Regions from separate parts of the Homo sapiens genome. Here region 2 is linked to region 1. The links come from fine-mapping of genetic effects on gene expression. Tissue or cell type: skeletal muscle. Region 1 holds a variant in brackets; the other region holds the start of a gene. All regions are shown on one strand. Distances are from middle to middle.

Region 1 (2,755 bases):
GGGGTCTGGATGTGACCCATCCTTGGCCTGGGGGCAGTGGTCTCAGAAGATGGCCTGGCCCATCCTCTGCTCACCACCCACCCTGTGCAGGTATCTTGTACCCCACTTTGAGCCAGTTTATGAACCCAGGGCCTCCACAGGGAGCTAATTAGGAGCCTAGAAGCCAAGAAGGGAAAAGGATGGGGCAAAGGGGGCTGACTTTAACCCATTCTTCCCCAGCAGTGATGCAAACTGCCTTTCCCAGGAAGTTAGGCTGGAAGCTCCAGGCTGTGAAGTGGGGGAAGAATCAGACTCCTCCTCCTCCTCCTCCTCCTCCTCCTCCTCCTGTTGTTCCTCCTGGTCCTCCTCCTCCAGCTTCTCCTTTTCTTGGAGTCTGCATGGCCACATGGCTCTGCCTGAGCCCATCTGGCAGCCTTCCTTGGCAGGGACAGAAGGGGTGATCTAGAAGGGGTGATCCCTCCATGAAGCATGGAAGGGAACAGGGCTAGGTCTGTGTTTGGCGCTCACCCCATCCCTCCACTCCCTGGCTTCCTCTGGCCTGGGGAGTTTTGTTTTTCACCCTCCAGAGGGGGAGGACATGGGGCCACACCCTGGCCTGTCTCTCAGGCTTGTGTGGGTGGAGGCTGGGAAGGGAGTTGGGCTAAACTTCGCTGTTGCCCGAGGCCATGGCCACTTCCCGGCAGGTTGCCAGCGTCGCTACAGCCCAGACCAAGGCAGAATAATCTCCGGATGAGCTGGTGGCACCGCTGAGCCTTTGGTCTCACCAGGGCTTCCTGTTGCTGGCAGGCGGGGTGGAGCGGAGCTGCTGGGAGGCTGCTGGATAGGAGAGGGGTCACGGCTGCGGAAGAGGAGGTTCTTCGGGACACCCGTGGATGGACACGGCAAGGTCAGTAGGAGACAGAAAAAAAGAGGGTTCACTTAGTGCAGAATCACCCTTATCCACTTCCCAAGTCTCCTTAGGTTGTGGTTAGAGGTCCTGCTGTGGCACCTCTGTATTTCTTGGGCCTCAGCAAGGCACTTTATCCTCTTCAGGTCTCAGTTCCCTGATCTTTGCAGGCAGGAGAATCGTCCCCACCCCAAAGACAAGACAGGGTGGAAGAGATGGAGAGTTTCACGCAGAGCACAATCAGGCATCTTTTATTCTTTTCTTTCCCTCCAACATCCCTAGGAAAGAGCAAGGCTCAGGATGATTTATCCTCTTTTCACTGATGAGGAATCTGAGGCCCAGAGAACAGTCATGAAGTGTGATCAGACCCTGAGGTCTCCAAAAAGATAATGTCCTTGCGAACTCCAGGGATTCTGGCATCTTGCTGTACCCACCCCAGCCCACACGGCAGGATCCTATCCAAGTCCCTTATCCACCCGGACACTCACTTTAGCTTTTACACCCTCAAGGCTGAGACCCTAAGGACACGCCCTGGATCCAAGGAGTCCCTGGCCCCTCTGCTAATATGCGCCACCTGGACTCCCAGAGGGAAAGCCGGTCAGCACCCCACATG[C/GC]ATTAGCACCATGGGCCACCCCCAAGCCCTACCCCAGGAGAAGCTCGTGGTGGCAAAAAGAACCTAAGCATTTGAGGCAGGTCACCCAAGCTTGAATCTCAGTCTGCCTCTCATCTGTGACCCTGGCGAGCCACTCGTCCTCAGGAAGCCTTCACTTTCCCTAGTGCACGGCGGGCACACAGCTCAACGTGGGACTGTGAGGATGGGAAATGAGGGGTGCCATGCACCCTGGAGGAACTCAGTGAACAGTGGCAACTGTCACTTCCCTGGGGCCCTATGGTCCTTCCTTTCTCCCCAGCCTGTCCACACTAGCATCTTCCTCAACTCCTGGTTTTCAGAGGGAAACACTTATCGGTCATCTGCTCCACAGGAAACACCAGGCCAACCACAGCTGGGGATAAAATAGCACAACCACACCCTGCCGTCCAGCGCCTCCCAGCCTGTGCCCCTTCCTAGTACCACCAGCAACCATCAATCCCGTCTCCTCCTGCCTCCTCTCCTGCAATCCACCCCGCCACGACTATCGCCATGGCAGCCCTGATCGCAGAGAACTTCCGCTTCCTGTCACTTTTCTTCAAGAGCAAGGATGTGATGATTTTCAACGGCCTGGTGGCACTGGGCACGGTGGGCAGCCAGGAGCTGTTCTCTGTGGTGGCCTTCCACTGCCCCTGCTCGCCGGCCCGGAACTACCTGTACGGGCTGGCGGCCATCGGCGTGCCCGCCCTGGTGCTCTTCATCATTGGCATCATCCTCAACAACCACACCTGGAACCTCGTGGCCGAGTGCCAGCACCGGAGGACCAAGAACTGCTCCGCCGCCCCCACCTTCCTCCTTCTAAGCTCCATCCTGGGACGTGCGGCTGTGGCCCCTGTCACCTGGTCTGTCATCTCCCTGCTGCGTGGTGAGGCTTATGTCTGTGCTCTCAGTGAGTTCGTGGACCCTTCCTCACTCACGGCCAGGGAAGAGCACTTCCCATCAGCCCACGCCACTGAAATCCTGGCCAGGTTCCCCTGCAAGGAGAACCCTGACAACCTGTCAGACTTCCGGGAGGAGGTCAGCCGCAGGCTCAGGTATGAGTCCCAGGTAAGGAGCTGTGCAAAGGGAAGCTCCTCTTCCCTAGTGGTGGCTGGTGAGAGGTCCGGGGATGGCCTAGTGCTAAAGCTGGGGTTGGTCCTCAGGGGCTGAGGTCTGTGGGAAAGCACTAGCGTTAGGTATCAGGGCTGGTTAACTGGTGCATGGTGGGGCAAGGGCCAGTT
Region 2 (2,755 bases), 54 kb after region 1:
AAATGCAAATCAGATTATAAATGATCACAAAGATGTAGGAAGGGATAAGGCAATGTAGGAAGGGATAAGTAAAGGAGGCAAGCTTCATAAAGAAGATCTTTTTTAGCTTAAGGGTAAAAGATGAACAGAAGCTTGACAGGTAGAAAGGGAATGTGAGAAAAGACATGGATGGGAAAAGCCTATTATTTCAATAAACACCAGCAATTTCCCTATCAAACAACTGCTCAAAGGCTTGCTGTTGTCTCTGAGGAATTATTCAACTAGACCACTGGGAGATTAAAGCATAAAAATTGAAGTTAAATTTTAAAGAAGGCCGGGCACCATGGCTCACACCTGTAATGCCAGCACTTCGGGAGCCCGAGGCGCGTGGATCATCTGAGGTCAGGAGTTCGAGACCAGCATAGTCAACATGGCGAAACCCCGTCTCTACCAAAAACGCAAAAATTAGCCGGGCGTGGTGGCCTGCGCCTAGTCCCAGCTACTAGGCAGGCTGAAGCGTGAGAATTGCTTGAGGCCGGGAGGCGGAGGTTGCAGTGAGCTGAGATCATGCCGCCGCACTCCAACCTGGGAGACAAAGTGAGACTCTGTCTCAAAAAAATTAAAGGAGAAGTTGGGCTTTTTTGTGGAAGACCTTGAATTAGATATGGGTAGTTTGCTTTGGCAAGTCAGAGACTTAAGCAGGGAAAGCGAGAGAACAGTAAGCAAGAAAAATATACTGCAGGCTATAGATTGGACATGAAGAGAGACAGTATTGAAGGCAAGTAAATTCGGTAGAAGGATTCAAATGCACTGTTTCCTGTTATCTCAGTGACAGAAAAAAAAAAAAAAAAAAAGGATTCAAATGCAGTACAGCAGAGAAACCATGAGAACCAGAACTGGGTATAAGTGAAAACAGAAGACAGGAGAGGTTAGTTCTGACAGACACTTGGTAATAAGACTCTACAAGGGCTTTAGACTAAAGAAGTGATGACCGGGTGGGGCCAAGGATATGGAATCAGGGATGGGTATATGATTCATAGAAACAGGAAAGTTTGGGGGGTCTAGTTTGCTGATAATTTCACCCTTAATTTCCTTTCAAGCAAGGGGAAACTGAGGCTCTGAAAAGTAAGGCGATCCAGGGGCACAGAAGATACTTAGGCTACTTTCCGAACACAAAGCCTGGGGTTACAGGGGCTGCTACAACAGAGCCGGCTTCGAAGCGGGGCTAAGGTGGCCGAACCACACTCATCTAGCGTGTGCCTGGCAGGGAACCAGGCCTGGGACAGACCTGACAGCCATGAGGTTTCCTCCTTTTTCGCCTCTGCCTTTACTCACCAGCGCCACGGCGTCTGCACCCAGCTACCACTAACCTCGCGCCGCGGTACTCACACACGCGGAGACCAGGATACCCACAGTCCAGTGCAATTCTTCCGGAAGTGTGGGCGGGCTCAACACCCTACTTCCGTTGCTGTGTTGCGGAGGTGACCTAGAGACAGGAATCGGAAGGGCGGGATTTGGAGCCATAGCCAATCGTCGCATTAGGCCGAATCGCGGGGGCCGGCTAAACGCGTGCGGGGGAGGTGGCTTCTTCCGGCCGGGCCGAGAGGTGGTTACATTCGTTGAAGGACACCAGCTGCGGAATTTGCGGCTTTGGCAGGTGGGTGAAGAGGGGAGTCCGGGCTTGGACCTGGCGCCTGCACGTTGCAGGACCGCCCGCCGTTTCTGGCCGAGGAGCAACTCGAGTTCTTAGCTTTGGAGGAGAGAAACGGTGGGGAATGGGAAAGGAGCTAGAAAAAACGAGGGGCGCAAGGGGGCGGCCAGCGGGTGAGAAGCCTCGAGGTGAGGCGGATAGGTGCGCCCAAGGGCTCCCACAGTTTCCGAAGACCCTTAGATTGCATTCGCCAGTGGAGAAAAATGAGGCCCTCCGCGAAGCGTCCCTCGAGGTCACCCAGTGACGTAATATTGGACGAGGACTAGGGCTTCTGATCCCCATCACCGGCCGAATTAACCTCTTTTCTTCTGTATGTCCATAGCTGTTTGTTCCCACCGAGCTGTGCTTTAGGAAGCTGGCCAGCCGGGCCTCCTTTAGGTGCGCTGCAGCCTTTTTCAAAGCGAGTGAATGTGGCCCGGCCCCTACAGTTCGCCAGGCCCGCTGTAAAAGGGTTAGATTTCAGTCTATAGACGATCAGTGGGAAGGCCTTTCCTAGGAGGTAACCAGAACAGAGAGCTGTAAACTCCGTGAATGCAAGAGGCTGCTTCTGTTACCTGAGTGGTTCTCACTCATCTTTGCCTTCCTTACCTCGTGATCTCACCATTCCAGGTAGGTGTTAAGTTAGAAAGGAAAATAGCAATATCGAGGAACAGAGAAAGTAACAAGAGCTACTGGTCACTTTGGACCTTTAATAAAGTGCCCATCTCACAGGTGGAGAGAGGCACGGAAGGATTAGTTACATTTAAGAGCAGTTAGTGGCCGGGCGCGGTGGCTCACGCCTGTAATCCCAGCACTTTGGGAGGCCGAGGCGGGTAGATCACCTGAGGTCCAGAGTTCGAGACCAGCCTGAGTAGTATGGTGAAACCCCGTCCCTACCAACAATACAAAAATTAGCCGGGCGTGGTGGCGCGCGCCTGTAGTTCCAGCTACTCGGGAGGCTGAGGCAGGAGAACCGCTTGACCCCGGGAAGCGGAGATTGCAGTGAGCTGAGATCGCGCCACTGCACTCCAGCCTGGACGACAGAGCGAGACCTTGTCTCAAGAAGGGCAGTTAGCAACTTAATTA

Which allele goes with the higher level. Positions count from the first base shown, and alleles are read on the strand shown. Sizes are in standard deviations (SD) of each study's normalised expression.
For the expression in skeletal muscle of the gene that starts at base 1,419 in region 2, allele GC in region 1 goes with a lower level than allele C (moderate effect, 0.50 SD a copy in GTEx).

The links. PIP is the estimated chance that this variant, and not a neighbour inherited with it, causes the effect.
Region 2: it holds the start of PDCD11, and the variant in region 1 is fine-mapped to the expression of PDCD11 in skeletal muscle (GTEx, PIP 0.92).

The regions. Positions count from the first base shown.
Region 1 is chr10:103,449,214-103,451,968 of GRCh38, reverse strand. It overlaps CALHM2 (calcium homeostasis modulator family member 2), which reads left to right. Exons shown (of 4, transcript NM_015916.5): 2 at 684-886; 3 at 1,870-2,582. The coding sequence starts at 2,028. Among named protein-coding and RNA genes, the nearest start is that of CALHM2, 1.8 kb to the left of the region's middle. RefSeq lists enhancers at 1-608, 557-926. The variant C/GC (reference allele first, on the strand shown) is at 1,500.
Region 2 is chr10:103,395,290-103,398,044 of GRCh38, reverse strand. PDCD11 (programmed cell death 11) reads right to left here and starts at 1,419. Exons shown (of 36, transcript NM_014976.2): 1 at 1,315-1,419. ATP5MK (ATP synthase membrane subunit k) reads left to right here and starts at 1,570. Exons shown (of 5, transcript NM_001206427.2): 1 at 1,570-1,636; 2 at 2,013-2,299. RefSeq lists enhancers at 1-433, 434-935, 1,593-1,842, 1,993-2,082, 1,475-2,307.